Linked DNA regions of Homo sapiens: region 1 is linked to region 2. Evidence: fine-mapped expression QTL. Tissue or cell type: minor salivary gland. Region 2 holds a variant in brackets; the other region holds the start of a gene. All regions are shown on one strand. Distances are between the middles of the regions.

What was found. PIP is the estimated chance that this variant, and not a neighbour inherited with it, causes the effect.
Region 1: it holds the start of DANCR, and the variant in region 2 is fine-mapped to the expression of DANCR in minor salivary gland (GTEx, PIP above 0.99).

What each region holds. Positions count from the first base shown.
Region 1 is chr4:52,707,766-52,715,873 of GRCh38, forward strand. DANCR (differentiation antagonizing non-protein coding RNA) reads left to right here and starts at 4,629. Exons shown (of 5, transcript NR_145129.1): 1 at 4,629-4,762; 2 at 5,059-5,194; 3 at 5,729-5,777; 4 at 6,434-6,473. It overlaps MIR4449 (microRNA 4449), which reads left to right and starts at 4,917; the gene lies at 4,917-4,982. It overlaps SNORA26 (small nucleolar RNA, H/ACA box 26), which reads left to right and starts at 5,484; the gene lies at 5,484-5,605. RefSeq lists silencers at 4,435-5,268, 4,443-5,012 and an enhancer at 5,263-5,312.
Region 2 is chr4:53,696,275-53,704,366 of GRCh38, forward strand. The region is part of intron 1 of LOC100506444 (a long non-coding RNA gene); the gene reads left to right. Among named protein-coding and RNA genes, the nearest start is that of LNX1-AS2, 110 kb to the left of the region's middle. RefSeq lists an enhancer at 6,277-6,396. The variant G/A (reference allele first, on the strand shown) is at 4,961.

The DNA.
Region 1 (8,108 bases), 990 kb before region 2:
AGGCCCCTTTTCAGACTCCAGCCCTAGCTAGGAGTCAGGCAGGGGATGGAGAAGAGGTGATTGTCGTGGTGCTAGGACCATGTCTGCTGTGGGGGTGGGAGGGTAGACACAGGAGACAGCAGTGGAGGCATCACAAGAGATCATTCTTCTGCTTTCAGGTTGGTTGTTGCCTATGCCATGCCTACTGCCCGCTCTTGTGTTGTAGACAAGGGAGTGTCTCTAACTGTGGAAGGTGGGGGCTCTCCTTTTTTGTAAAACGCTATACTTTATTCCGATATCGTGTTCTTGAAGTTACTTACAAAAGGCTAATATAGCCCTTATTTTGTTTTCTGTAATGAAAATTATTATATCAGTAATACATGCTCTTTGTAAAGAATTTGAATGATACCTCAAAAATATTTTTAGAAAGTAAGACACATGAAATCCCATCACCTTGAGAGAAATACCACTGACATTGTAGTAACCATATTTTCACACACACACACACACACACACACACAAACTATACTTGTACATGTATATACATAGAATACTATACATATATACATACTATACTATAAATATATACATAGTATGTATGTATTTATATTATATAGCTACATACATATAGTTATTTAAGATTACAAGATACAAGTGGTTTTATCATAGATATTTTCTCCTTCCCTCTCACTCCTCTCCCCCATATCCTTCATCCCCTACCCTCTGGATTACCATATTAACAGCAGGTTGTGAGTGTAGATAGGTCTAGGGATAAGTAGGAGTTAAGGAAAAAAGAACAGGTGACAGGCAGCCCAGACGAAGAGAACACCACATGCAAAGGCAAGGAAGCAAGAGCTTATTAGAGCTGTGGCTCTTGAAACTTTAATGTGCATACAGATCACCTGGGGATCTTGTTGAAATATAGATTCCGAATCAGCAGATCTGGGATGAGGCCTGAGATTATGCATTACTACAAGTTTCCAGGGAATGCCCAGGCTGATGGACCACGCTTTGAGAAGCAAGGATGTAAACTATTGTGCAGTTCAATGTAGTATCTACCAGCCACATGTGACTTTTATTTTTATCTATTTATTTATCTTAGATGTCTTGCTCTGTCACCCAGTCTGGAGTGCTGTAGTGCCATCATAGGTCACTGCAGCCTTGAATCCTGAGCTCAAGTGATCCTCTTGCCTCAGCTGCCTGAGTAGCTGGGACTACAGGCCTGTTCTGCCATGCTTGGCTAATTTTTTTTTTCTGTAGAGATGGAGTCTTGCTATATTGCGGCAGCTGGAGTGCAGTGGCTATTCACAGGCACTGTCTGAGCACACTGCAACCTCAAACTTCTGGCCTCAAGGGATCCTCCCACCTCAGACTTCTGCCCACGTAGCTGGGATTATAGGCATACCACCACCAGGCCCAGCATGACTATTTAAATTTAAATTAGTTAAAAGTAAATGAAGTTTAAGATCCAGGTCTTGTGTTGTGCTAGTCACATTTCAAGTACTCAATAGCCACATGTGGCTACCATACTGGACAGCAGAGATATAGAACATTTCCATCACTGCAGAAAGTTGTATGGGAGAGTGCTGGACAGCATTCAGGGGACTGCCATTAGTTCAGCATGGTTGGATTATAATAGGTATGTGGGAAGTGAGAGGAGGAAGTAGATAGGTGGAGGTTGGTTTTGTTTCTGGTGGCAGTAAAGAGCCATTTAACAATTTCCAATGGAGATGACAGCAGTGTGGAAGAATTCATGGGGAAGGGAACACTGGAGACAGGGAAGCTGAATGAAGGTGGAGGCTACTGCAGTGGATGATGCTGAAAGTAAATGATGGAGCTAGAACTAAAGTACAAGCAAGGGCTGGAAAGAAGAGGCAGAGTCATGGTGGTCAATAGGAAGAACTGCCCGCATGGAAGAAGATGAGGAAGTAGGAGGCTGAGAAATGGAGGAGGAGACTGAGAAAGGAAAGCATTTGCGCTAAGTCCTGGACAGCTGGGCTAAGGAATTGTTATTCTTCAAGACAGAGGACACAAAAAGGAAGTGGAGGGGTGGAAGAAGAGAATAAATTCTGGGCCAAAAGAGTGATTTTGTGGTGTCTCTGGGAAATCCAGCTGAGAATATCTGGAGGGCTGGTGGGTATTCTTCTAGGTCCCTTTATTCAACTTCCGACAGATTAAATTTGGAGAGACTGAACTCCCTCAAATTGGACAGATTGGCCAGTCGTGGTGGCTCACATCTGTAATGCCAATGCTTTGGGAGGCTGAGGTGGGAGGATCACTTAAGCCTAGGAGTTGGAGCCTGACCCGTGAGCTATGATTGTGCCACTGCACTCTAGCCTGAGTGATAGAGTAAGACCCTGTCAAAGGGAAAAGAAAGGGAGAGGGAGAGAGACGAGAGAGAGAGCAAGAAAGAGAGAGAGAGAGAAAAGAAAAGGAAGGAAGGGAGGGAGGGAGGGAAAGAAAAGAAAGAAAGAAAAGAAAGAAAGAAGGATTGATTAGACATACTAATTTCTCTAAAAAAATTAGGCCTAATAATAAACCCAATTGAAACAATTCTCTTTAAACTGCATTATAAGGATTTTTAGTACCAAATATATATTATCTTGAACCTAACTCAAAAGCAATTATAAATCAGTTTATTTTGTTCTATTGTCTCTGTATTTAATAGACATTTCTCCTCTAAGCCCAGTGAACAGTTTTACTATTTCGAATGAACTGTTTGTAAGTTCATTGAATTGAGGTATTTGGCCAGAAATGTGAAGCCTTCAGATTAAGGTGAATTTCTCTTAAATCAAACACAAATATAATTCTTTCATAATTCCTTCCCATTTTTATCCCCTGATTTGGGGAGGAGGGAAGACATTCTGCACAACTACCCCCAGCCCCTGCTAGGTTGCTGCTGAATTCCTGCATTAGTCTCTTTACTAAGGAGATTTACTTCTCTTTTCCTATATTTTCCCATGTTGCCTGACCACATGCATTGCCATAGTTAAAGGAAAGGTAATATCTCTCAGCTATCCAAAGGGACTATAAAAAGAACAGATTCCAACTAGAGATATGTTTGGAAGACTCTTGAGAAAGGTGAAGGGACAACAAACTGGTATTCACTCTCCAATTTCAACAAGATCCTATGAATATCTGCAAGATGATGACTAGGTGCTAGGGTTTATTGGTAAATTTTACTCAACTTCTTCTTCCCACCAAAACCACCTTAATCACACCCGAAACCACACCCTACATCAGATCCTATCATTCCCCTGTTAAAACACACACACACACACACAACAAACAAACAAAACACTTGAACAGCTTTCCATCATTCTTAGCACAAAGTATAAACTCTTTCACAAATACAAAAATTAACCAGGCATGGTGGTGCATGCCTGTAATCCCAACTACCCGGGAGGCCGAGACGAGAATAGTTTGAACTTGGGAGGTGGAGGCTGCAGTGAGCCAAGATCGTGCCACTATACTCCAGTCTGGGCAACAGAGCGAGACTCCATCTCAAAAACAAAACAAAACAAAAAAACTCTTCCAGGGTTTCCTGCATGGTCTGGCCCCAAGCCATTCTCATCTCAGGCCACTCTGCTCCTTAAGTTCCATTTCTGGGAGTCCTTAAACAGGTAAAGCCCTTTCCTGTTTTATCTTGGGGCTCTGGACGAGTTGTTCTTTCTGTTTACAAAGCCACACCCCACCAGAGCTGCCTGTCTTGATCTGTTAACCAAGTGTAGGCTATTTTTTGGTTTCCCTTCCTGCTCCACCCCCAACACCTGGGGAAAGGCTAGGTAGCATGTTGTTTGAGGGGCTCTGCCTTCAGGCTGCTTGAGTTCAAATCCTGGATCTACCACTGGCTAGCTGCTCTGTGACTTTGGGCAAGTTACATAACATAATTATTTCCCCATCTATAATTTGGAGATGATTAAATATATTTTGAGGATTAGATTTGTTAGCAGATGGTAAGTACGTGAAACAGCAATAGAAGTTCTCCTTTTAGCATATACTCCAATTTTCTTCTACTTATTTGTTTGCCAAGTTTGAGCCTGTTACCTTGAGATTGCTATGGTTGCCTTCTCAACCTCCCCAACTCCTACCCTCCAGCTGATTATGGTCTACTTATTGGACTCTGTAAATGAATAAAGAGGGAGCATGAGGAAAGGAGGTAGTCCTTCTAGCTTTAGGAGAGGCCACGGGAGTGAGCTTGTTGAACAAGACATGGTCGTGGCTTCTCTTTAAGCTTACGGTTTAGGCGGACACAGATGATGAACACACACCGGATTAGTGTGGCTTTAAGAAAGGGAATCCCAGGGCCTTAGGCCAACCCTGGAGTAACCTCGATGCCCTCTCCAGAAGGGCACCCGAGGAAGGGTCTAGGGCCCAAGAGCACCAAAATCACCAACGCCGGGGATTGGTAGGTAGCCTGAAAAATCTAATTCAGAGAAGGATGCTCCGCGCGCAGACATGGCTTATCCCCGTGCTACTGCATGAGCCACACCTAGGCCGGCCCCGGACACCGACAGCCAATGGCCGGGCCCGTCCCGCCCCATCCGGGATTGGCTGTGCGTGCCGCGGCCCTCCACCCCGCCCCGCTCAGGATCTTCCCGGGATTGGCTGAGCTACCCGACCTCTCCAGGGGATCGGCTGCGCGCCCCGCCCTTGCCCAGAGTCTTCCCGGGATTGGCTGCGGGCCTCGCGACCCTCCTGCTTCCCTCCCCGCCCCGCGCCGCCTCTCTGGTTTGTGCGCCCGTCGCAGGTCGCAGGCCTCTTTGTCAGCTGGAGTTGCGCGGTGAGTGCATCTCCAGTCTTCGGCTTTCGGTCTCCCGCGGGGAGGGCGCCCGGCCGGCCCGTGGGTCCGATCAGGGGCTGGGCTCGCCCGGTGTCCCCACGAGCTTTGCCCGCCTCGAGCTCCTCTGCTCCCGGCGGCCAGAACGGAGGGGTAGAGCAGCCCTCGGCGGCCCGGGGGGCGGGCGGCGGTGCCCGTCCCGGGGCTGCGCGAGGCACAGGCGCCGCGCCCAGCGGAACAGCCGGAGGTTCCCGGCGCAGGTCTGGGCACCGTAACAATTTTGCGCTTTGCTTCCCCAGGGCTGACGCGCCACTATGTAGCGGGTTTCGGGCGGGCCACGCGTGCGGGACAGGAACCCAACCCCAGCCGACCTTGAGCTCCAGGAGTTCGTCTCTTACGTCTGCGGAAGTGCAGCTGCCTCAGTTCTTAGCGCAGGTATGTTCCTAGCCTTGAGCGGGGTGGGGGAAGGAATGAGTCAGCCTGGAGCACGTGGCCAGTGGGACCGGAGGGTTCCCCGGCGTCTGTTTGTCGCCAAGGTCCGAATCCGGCTCCCCTTAACTGGAAGGAAACATCCATGTAGGGGCTCACCAAACAAAACAGCTGTGTTTCTAGTGTGGTTTCAGACTTAGAGAAGCAGAGATCCACGAGGTATTGAGAGCAACGCGGAAAATAGTAGTGAACCCTGTAAAAATCAAAGAAAAAAAATCACAAAGCACCCTTTCCTGTGCCCTTTTAAGGTTGACCCAGTGCTTTAAGAGGCTAACACAGAAGGGTAAAGTAAGTCTCCATAAAACCCAGAGAAGAGACTGGAAAGCTCCTCTTTGGATCCTGTCTGGAGTCACAACTGAACCAGAAAAAGTTTCGTTACAACTTGAGCGCCTTTGTGATTTTCTTTACAGTTTATAGAACAAGCAATACATTTCAGTTTTCTTTGGTTAAAACGTCATTTTAAAACTTTTCTTTCTATAGGTTGACAACTACAGGCACAAGCCATTGAAGCTGGAATGTCCTGTTGCTGGTATTTCAATTGACTTAAGCCAACTATCCCTTCAGTTACAATAGGAAAGTGCCTCTAATAAGGCCAAATATGCGTACTAACTTGTAGCAACCACGTGTCCGTGCAGTGCCACAGGAGCTAGAGCAGTGACAATGCTGGTGGCAACAGGGCAGTGTAGCAGGTGCTTCATGTTCACCTTTTCAACCTTTTCATTTAATTGTCACAACTCGGAGGTGGATTCTGTTAGGGACAGGCTGCCCCAGGACCACTCCGCCCCCGCTAACTCAATGCAGCTGACCCTTACCCTGAATACTCTGCAGCTGCATTCCTGAACCGTTATCTAGGCGCTATAGCAAGGTCACCAGACTTGCTACACCGAAGCCCTCTGGGTGGCACGGGGGAGGTCATGAGAAACGTGGATTACACCCCCTTGTAAATTCCTATTTTCACAAGATAATATATTGTAAGCCGGTCATGAGATTATATGTGGTAAAGTTAATTGACTAACAACCCCAGGGTCTCTCTCCCCCATATAAACCCCTCATTTTGTAAGCTCAGGGCTGCCACCTCCGACTGGTGGAGAAGCCTGGCAGGTTAATAAACTTACTTGGCCTGACCTTGGGTCTCTTGTCTTTTCTCTCGGCTAACCTTACAGATTCTATTCTCCCATTTCACAGGTAAAGAAATGGATTAGTGATAACTCAAGTTTCATCACCTGTGAGTATCTCTGAATGAGAGGCTTCACATGTATAACTTTTAGGCAATGTGACTTCTGGAAAGTCACTTGTCTCTTGAGATTTGGTGTCCTGGTGTAACAGTTAAGAATTATTTCAACCAAACTAGGAAAGGACCACAGTCGAGCTGTTAAGAATATAAACTCTTCATATTATTTCATTGCATTGAGCCTAAGAAGGTTCACAAAATTTGGCACAGAAGGAGTATCTGTCAGCATATTCTGTTTTTTTGTGTGTGTCTATGTAGCAAGTATTAATATTTATCTTGGAGTCATTCTTAATTCATAGCATTGTTCTTACCTTTTTATCTAAACTTTTATGTTCCATATTGTAAAGTCTAGCCTCATAAATTTAGGTAATTGCTCACAAGTTTGGATAATGTTGAATTGTAATCCCGATGTTAGAGGAGGGGCCTGGTGGGACGTGATTGGATGAAAAGGGTGGATTTCCCTCTTGCTGTTCCTTGTGATAGTGAGTTCTCATGAGATCTGGTTGTTTAGATGTGTAGTGTGGCTGGGGCAGTGGCTCATGCCTGTAATCCCAGCACTTGGGAAGGCCAAGGCAGGGGGATCACTTGAGGTCAGGAGTTAAGACTATCTTGGGCAACATAGTAAGACCTCGTCTCTACAAAAAATGAGGCAGAAGGATTGCTTGAGCCCAAGAGGTTGAGACTGCACTGAGCCATGATCTTGTCACCGTGCTCCAGCCTGAAAAGAAAAATTAATAAAAATAAAGGTTATGCAATTGTGCACATGTTATCTCAAGGCAGAGGCAGAAGAATGGCAGAGTTTAGATTAAAAGTGTGGCACCTCCCCTTCCTCCTACTCTGGCCATGTGCTTCCTGTTAGACATACCCCATGATTGTAAGTTTCCTGAAGCCTCAGCAGCCATGCTCCCTGTGCAGCCTGCTGAACCATGAGACAAACCTTTTCTTTATAAATTACCCAGTCTCAGTTCTTTATAGCAATGTGAGAACAGACTAGTACAAAAAATACATTCAACTAATGTGTTAGCTGGCTATAATTGCTAAGGGGGTAAGGAAAGGGAGATGACTTAACATGGCCGGCAAGGGAGGCCTCACTCAACATGAAAGAGCTGAGGGAGATGCCATGGCCTTATCTATAGTTGAGGGAAGAGCATTCTAGGCAGAGGGAAAACTAGTGCAAAGGCCCTGAGGATAGTTGTGTTTAAAGGTTTGGAGAAGCAGTGAAGCTGTAGAGAAGTGCCCTTAAGGAGCGGAGGACTTTATGTCTGTAGTAGTGGAAAGTTGGTTATTTTCAAACTATGGTAAAATGGCAACGTGCTCTGGCCTGCGGGGCTCTGAATGTTTTAATTTAATTGGAATGCTCCCTATTGCCTTATACTTTACTGCTCTTAACCTAACTTTTCTCTGACCACCATCAGCCCTTCTATGTGTTCTTGATTTTCTTTAGCACCCTGTAATGGCCCTGTAGCATCAGAACTACATTGCGCATCGCATGCAAACTTACCTAACTGCCTCTGCTTCTCTCCATTCTGTAAAGTCCACCTTAGTTCCCACCATATTACAGAGGGTCTAGTCAGGTGCTTGACCTTTTGTAGGTAAGTGGCTTACAGTCCCCTTCTAAGGGCCGCATAA
Region 2 (8,092 bases):
ACAAATGTTTATCAATGATATGTGACATTCTAGGCACTATTCTAGACATTCTAGGCACTATTCTAGACATTTAGAATACAGCAGTGAACAAAATAAAGATCCCTACCAGTGTGAAGCAAACATTCTAGAGGGGAAAAAAGGCAAGAAACAATAACACAACAGCACAGTTTATTGTCTCTAAGATGGCAGTGATACAAGATGCACTGCTAGTCTATGTGCCACTAAAGAAAGAAAGAATGCTGCTAATAAATTGCTGCCATTATAGAATGCATCTTGATTTTATGTATGTTAAGATGTGAAACTTAGAATTGATTACATAAGATAAATAAACTATAATATATCAAAATGTGGCTATGAAAAAAGTGAAGCTGGGAGGGGAGTGGTGATATTGAACAAAGGCTTGAAAGAAATGGGACTGTTAAATTAATGGCAACTATTTTTGCAAAACTGCTTTATTGAGATGTAATTTATATATAATAAAACTCACCCTTTTAAGTGTATAATCCATTTTAGTAAGGTTACAGAGTTACACAAACATGATCTAGATTACCATGATCTAGATTTATAATATTTCTTTCTTTTTTTTAAAAAAAAGAACACGTAACAGGAGATCTATCTCTTAACAAATTTTTAAGTGTACAATACAGTGTTGTTAACCAGAGTCACAATTTTGTACAGCAGATCTCCAGAACTTAATCATCTTGAATAACTAAAACTTTATAACCCTTGAATAATACCTTTCCATTTATACTGCCCCATCCCCTAGCAACCACCATTCTACTCTGTTTCTATGTGTTTGACTTTAGATACATTTAGATACTTATGTAAGTGGAATTATGCAGTGTTTGTCCTTTTGTGACTGGCTTATTTCACTTAGCATAATGTCCTCCAGGCTCTTCCATGTTGTAGCATATGGTAGAATTTTTTTAAAGCTGAATAATATTCTACTGCATGTGCAGTATGCCACATTCTCTTTATCCATTCATCCAGCAATGAACATTTGGGTGGTTTCCACCTCTTGGCTACTGTGAATAATGCTGAAATTAACATGGGAGTGCAGATATCTCTTTGAGGTCCTGATTTCAAATCTTTTGGATAAATCCCCCAAATGGGATTGTTAGATCATATAGTACTTCTATTTTGATTTTTTCATGAACCTCCATACTGTTTTCTATAGCAATTGCACCATTTTACATTCCTACCACAGTGTGCCAGGATTTCAGTTTCTCAACAGCTTAGCCAACACTTATCTTTGTTTTTTTTTTTTTTTGGTTTTTTTTTTTGGATAATAGACATCCTAACAGCTGTGAGATGATATCTCATTGTAGTTTTGATTGTATTTTCCTGATGACTAGTGATGTTGAGTACCTTTTCATATACCTATTGGAATGGCAGCTATTTATTGAACAACTATGATATCCAAGAGGGCAGATATCATTTGTTTACCACTGTGTCCCCACTGCTAAAGCATCTGGCACATGGTAGGTACTCAATAAACATTTGTTGAATGAATGAGCTACTATTCATATATGCCAGGTACTTCACAGTGAATTCTTATCAAATGTTTGGAGGTAAGCATGGTCATGCCTATTTTATGAACGGTGAAACTGAGGCTCAGAAAAGTAACTTGTTCCTGGTCACAAACCCAGGTGAGGAGAATATAGTACTTGAACCCAGGTCTCTCTGATGTTAACATGTAAACTCTTCCTCTACATCTCACTGGCTTCTCTGCTTCTGGCCATTTTAATATCCCTCTGGTACAAAAATAAAAATAAAAAAAAATTGGAACACCAGGCAAGCAGGGGCTTTGGATAAAAATCAGACTCATAGAAACCAGAATGAAACCTTTGGGAATAGAAAGCCCAATTCACTGCCTGGGAAATGTCACATTTTGTGGAGGTGCAAGCAGTTGGCTTGTTATCTCAGATCTCAAGTTCTAGCTACTTTCACTTTAAAATCTATTATTTGAGTGAATTAAGACTCCCTGCCTCCAAAGAGACGATTTTTTTTAGTAAAAACTCTCCCTTGTTAAACAGTTTAACTCAAACTGGCAGCATAACTGTTAAAAACAAACTTACTTTGATACTTTGCAAAGCATAAGGCCAAATAACAATGGACATGGAAACCCACCACAGTCTTTCTAAGACTAAGTCAAACATCCTATATATAGAAAAACATCTTGGGTAAAATCTGTTAAGCCAATATTGGCTGAATTCAAAATTACACCTAATTTGAAACAACTGCTTTTTCCTCAGCCAACTGGCTACCCTATTGTTCTTTAATAAAAATAACAGAAAATCCAAATTTGAAGTCAAGTTCTCCCCGAAGAAAGATACGTTTCATATTAAAAGGCTCTACTGGTGACACTTGTGATATGAGCTGGGGTCTCCATTGTCTATCCTGGTAGAGTGGGAAGATTATCAGTGGTTAGGCAAGGTCCCTAAAAACTTGAAATTTTTGCTACAAACACGAGGGAATAATTAAACTTGGTTGGAATAAACAAACTTTTGGGGCAGTCCAGGCAGAGATCAGAATTCTCAAAATCCAAAGGCCTTTGTTGTGTTTTATTCATAACCTGCTCAGAGGAAAGCCGAAAATGGATCCTATATACCATGAGCTCATTCCTTTTTTTTTTTTTTTTTTTTTTTTGAGACAGAGTTTCTCTCTGTCACCCAGGCTGCAGTGCAGCGGTGTGATCTTGGCTCACTGCAAGCTCCGCCTCCCAGGCTCAAGCAATTCTTGTACCTCAGCTTCCTGAAGAGCTGGGACTACAGGTATGTGTGCCACAACACCCGGCTAATTTTTGTATTTTTAGTAGAGACAGGGTTTCACCATGTTGGCCAGGCTGGTCTTGAACTCCTGACCTCAGGTGATCTGCTCGTCTTGGCCTCCCAAAGTGCTAGGATTACAGATGTGAGCCACCGCACCTGGCTTCATTATTTCTCATTGAGGCAAAATGTTCCATTGTATGAGTAGATCAAAGTTTACTTGTACATTTCTCTGTTGGTGGACATTTGGGTTTCTTCTAGTTTTGAGACATTAAGTGAAGCAGTAGTTACCAGCTAGGGGCTGGGCCTATTAGTCTGTTTTCATGAGTCTGTTTTCACGCTGCTGGTAAAGACATACCCAAGACAGGGAAGAAAAAGAGGTTTAATTGGACTTACAGTTCCACATGGCTGAGGAGGCCTCAGAATCATGATGGGAGGCAAAAGGCACTTCTTACATGGTGTCAGTAGGAGAAAAATGAGGAAGAAGCAAAAGCAGAAACCCCTGATAAACCTGTCAGATCTTGTGAGACTTATTCACTATCATGAGAATAGCACGGGAAAGACTGGCTCCCATGATTCAATTTCTTCCCCCTGGGTCCCTCCCACAACACATGGGAATTCTGGGAGATAGAATTCAAGTTGGGATTTGGATGGGGACACAGCCAGACTATATCATTCCACCCCTGGCCCCTCCAAATCTCATGTTCTCACATTTCAAAACCAATTATGCCTTCCCAACAGTCCCCCAAAGTCTTAACTCATTTCAGCTTTAACCCAAAAGTCCATAGTCCAAAGTCTCCTCTGAGACAAGGGAAGTTCCTCCACATATGAGCTGGCAAAATCAAAAGCAAGCTAGTTACTTCCTAGATACAATGGAAAAACAGGTATTGGGTAAATACATTCATTCCAAATGGGAGAAATTGGCCAAAACAAAGGGGTTACAGGGCCCATGCAAGTCCGAAATCCAGTGAGGTCGTCAAATTTTAAAGCTCCAAAATGATCTCCTTTGACTCCAGGTCTCACATCCAGGTCATGCTAATTCAAAAGGTGGGTTCCCATGGTCTTGGGCAGCTCCACCCCTGTGGCTTTGCAGGATACAGCCTCTCTCCCACTGCTTTCACGGGCAGGCATTGTGTGTCCGTGGCTTTTCCAGGTGCACAGTGCAAGCTGCCTGTGGATCTACCATTCTGGGGTCTGGATGACGGTGGCCGTCTTCTCACAGCTCCACTAGGCGGTGCCCCAGTAGGGACTCTGTGTGGGGGCTCCGACCCCACATTTCCCTTCTGCACTTCCCTAGGAGAGGTTCTTCATGAGGCCCTGCTCCTGCAGCAAACTTTTGTCTGGGCATCCAGGCATTTCTATACATCTTCTGAAATCTAAGTGGAGATTCCCGAACCTCAATTCTTGACTTCTGTGGACTGCAGGCTCAACACCATGTGGAAGCTGCCAAGGCTTGGGGTTTGCACACTCTGAAGCCACAGCCCAAGCTCTATGTTGGCCCCTTTCAGCCACATCTGGAGCAGCTGGGACACAGGGCACCAAGTTTCTAGGCTGCACACAGCACAGGGACCCTGGGACTGGCCCATGAGACCACTTTTTCCTCCTGGGACTCCAGGCCTGCGATGAGAGGGGCTGCTGTGAAGGTCTCTGACTTGGCCTGGAGACATTTTCCCCACAGTCTTGGGGATTAATATTAGACTCCTTGCTACTTATGCAAATTTCTGCAGCTGGCTTGAATTTCTCCTCAAAAAATGGGTTTTTCTATTCTACTGCATCATCAGGCTGCAAACGTTCTGAACTTTTACGCTCTGTTTTCCTTTTAAAATGGAATGCTTTTAACAGCACCCAAGTCACCTCTTGAATGCTTTGCTGCTTAGAAGTTTCTTCTACCAGACACCCTAAATCATCTCTCCCAAGCTCAAAGTTCCACACATCTCTAGGGCAGGGGCAAAATGCCGCCAGTCTTTTTGCTAAAACATAGCAAAAGTCGCCTTTGCTCCAGTTCCCAACAAGTTCCCCATCTCCATCTGAGACCACCTCAGCCTGGACCTTATTGTTCATATCACTATTAGCATTTTTGTCAAAGCCATTCAACAGGTCTCTAGGAAGTTCCAAACTTTCCCACGTTTTCCTGTCTTCTTCTGAGGCCTCCAAACTGTTCCAAACTCTGCCTGTTACCCAGTTCCAAAGTC[G/A]CTTCCACATTTTCAGCTATCTTTTCAGCAACGCCCCACTGTACTGATACCAACTGACTGTATTAGTCTGTTTTCACGCTGCTGATAAAGACATACCTGACACTGGGAAGGAAAAGAGGTTTAATTGGACTTACAGTTCCACATGGCTGGGGAGGCCTCAGAAACATGGCGGGAGGCAAAAGGCACTTCTCACATGGCAGTGGCAAGAGAAAAATGAGGAAGAAGCAAAGGCGGAAACCCCTGAAAAACCCATCAGATCTCATGTGACTTACTCACTATTACGAGACTAGCATGGGAAAGACCAGCCCCCATGATTCAATTACCTCCCCCTGGGTCCCTCCCGTGACACATGGGAATTCTGGGAGATACAATTCAAGTTGAGATTTGGATGGGGACACAGCCAAACCATATCACTGGGGGAGGAAGGCACCGTGGTAGTGCTATGGACCGAATCATGTCCCCTCCATATTCGTATGCTGAGGCCTTGAGCCCCAATGTGAATATATTTGGAGATGAGTCCTTTCTGGAAGTAATTAAGGTTAAATGAGGTCATAAGGTTAGGGCCCTGATCTGATAGAATTTATGTCCTTTTAAGAATAGACACCAGAGCGCTTGCTCCAGGTGCACAAAGTAGTGGCCATGTGAGCATACACTGAGAAAGCAGCCATCTGCAAGCCAGGAAGAGGGCCCTTACCAGCCATTCTAGTCCCCTGATCTTGGACATCCAGCTTCCAAAACTGTGAGAAACCGATTTTTGTTATTGAAATCGCTTAGCCTTTGGTATTTTGTTCTGGCACCCTGGCAGACTAATATAAGTAGGGGTAAGCAGGTTATTAACCAGAAAGAGACACAAAGGAGCTTTTCACATAAGGGCGATGGATATATTCTGTATCTTGATCAGGGTAGTAGTTACGTGGGTGGATACATAGGTGAACAAGTTTATCAAACTGTCAGTTTCAGATTTCTACATTCTTGTGCATATAAATTTTCCTAAACTTGAAAAAGGCCGTCTTATCCCCATCTTTCCCAATGGAATCTGTGTTTCAAAAAGATAACAATATAGTGTTCATGCCTTCAAACAGGCCTGGTAGAAAGGAAATTAACATACATTATTTATCTCGTATATATGTATGTTTCTGCCTGTAATAAATAATGGGGATTGAGCACTTAGCACAAGAGTAAGCAACTGCCAAATGCAGCTCTGGGTTCAGACCTGTATGGGGCAGACCTGAGAGCCAGGCCCCTTTCCCTACCATACTGAAACTGACAGCAAAGCCGCTCAGCTAAGGGGATGTGCAGAAAGGACGCCCTGGGGTCTCCTGAGGCTGCAGGGCGGCCGGGGAGCCCTGGGGTCAGGAGGGCAACTTTCTGGGGCACAGTGCTCGAGTCACCTCTCCGAGGAACGGCTCTGCCTGCACTGCTTCTTGTACTTTGTTTACCCGCCCCTAGGAAAAGAGCTGTGAAGATGATCGTAGGGAGCAAGCAGTGAGGCGGCAAATGGCTCTGAGAGGAGCCACGCAGACAGCTGGGCAGCCGTGCCAAGAACAACAGGAAGCTCGCGGCCCCACCCCTGCTCGCTGCAGCCCTGGCCTGGAGACCCAGGGTTATTTGCTTTGAAGGGCCCTCTGCAGATGTTACATAAACAAAACCTCCATTGACTCCAGTTCTGAGCCTGGCCTAAAATAGCCCGCGGGCTTCCCCCTACCACTGTGCAGTTTCGCCGCCATCCCTTTTGGTCCCCTTGTGTGCTAGCTGCTTCCCTCCATTGACCACATGTGCAGACAACTCTCGCCAGTGTCCCTAAGAGGCCAGTTCCCTGGGGAACAAAAAGTGGGGCTCGTTTGCCTTCCCTGGCAGGTCAGACACAAAGCATCCCTGTAAGACCTTTGATGGCTACTGGCCAAGGGACACGTTTCCCCTCCCCAGGGAGGCAGGAAGCTGGGCTGAGGCACAGTGGGGTTTGGTCAGCAGCCAGCACAAGAGGGACTGTGCTTTCTCTCTGTGTCTGTGTCTCTTTCTGTGTGTGTCTGCGTCTCTCTCTCTCTCTGTCTCTTTCTCTCTCTTTCCTAAGGGCAAGCTCTCCAGGTAAGGGCACGAGTTCTTCGTCAGCGTCTCTATTTTCACTTGATGTAACGACTGAACACTCTACTCTTGACTCTTCCTCCAAGCTCCTATAAAATTCCCTGACCCCATTTGCACTTCAGCTCCTTCATTCTGCAGAAAACCATTCCTTCGTGAACATCTGGAGAATCACAGATCCGTGCCACAGCACGGGGTCACTCTGGGCCTTGCCACTCAACATGGGTCCCTGGAAGCTATTATCATCTTTTCCCTTTGACCTCCTGCACTTCTCCAGGATCTTAACTCATAAAATAAAACCAAAAACAACACCAGCAATAAAAACATATTTATGTCAAATACTTACTATGTGCCTGATACAAGGCTAAGCATTTTATGTGTTTTATTTTATTTCATATTGAACAGTCTTATGAGATTGGTACAATAATTATCTCCAGCTGACAGAAGGACAAACTGCAGTTTGGAAAAATTATAGAACTTGTACAAGATGTGACAGAGGTGGAACAGTCAGACTTGTATTCAGTGTCTCAACCACTGCATTGCATGTCCGGGGAAAAAGAGGGCAGGACTCACAACTCCTCCTTTCCATGGTCTTTCTTCTATTCAAAGGCCATGCTATTGTATCCATGGTCAATGTCATTAAACATATCACTGATCAATTAATTATCCAATCAGTATTTAAGGACTATGTTTTCTGGGCAAGTTGCTATTTGAGTCTATACCAGACCAAAAAAACAAAAACGTATGATGTATACTATGTGAATATCTAGCTCCTACTGTATCAACAGTTGTACTTCGGTTGTGAGAGGGCTTTGTGTTTCTCTGGGCTGAAGATCCTCAAACCAGATGGCCATCCTGGAACTAGAAGTTCTTCTTTAATTTAATTTTTTTTTAATTTCAACTTTTATTTGAGATACCAGAGGTATATGTGCAGGTTCGTTATGTGGGAATATTGCATGAGGCTGAGGTTTGGAGTATGGATCCTGTCACTTATGTAGTGAGCATAGTACCCGATAAATAGTTAATTGCTGCCCCCCATCCCCCACTGTCTAG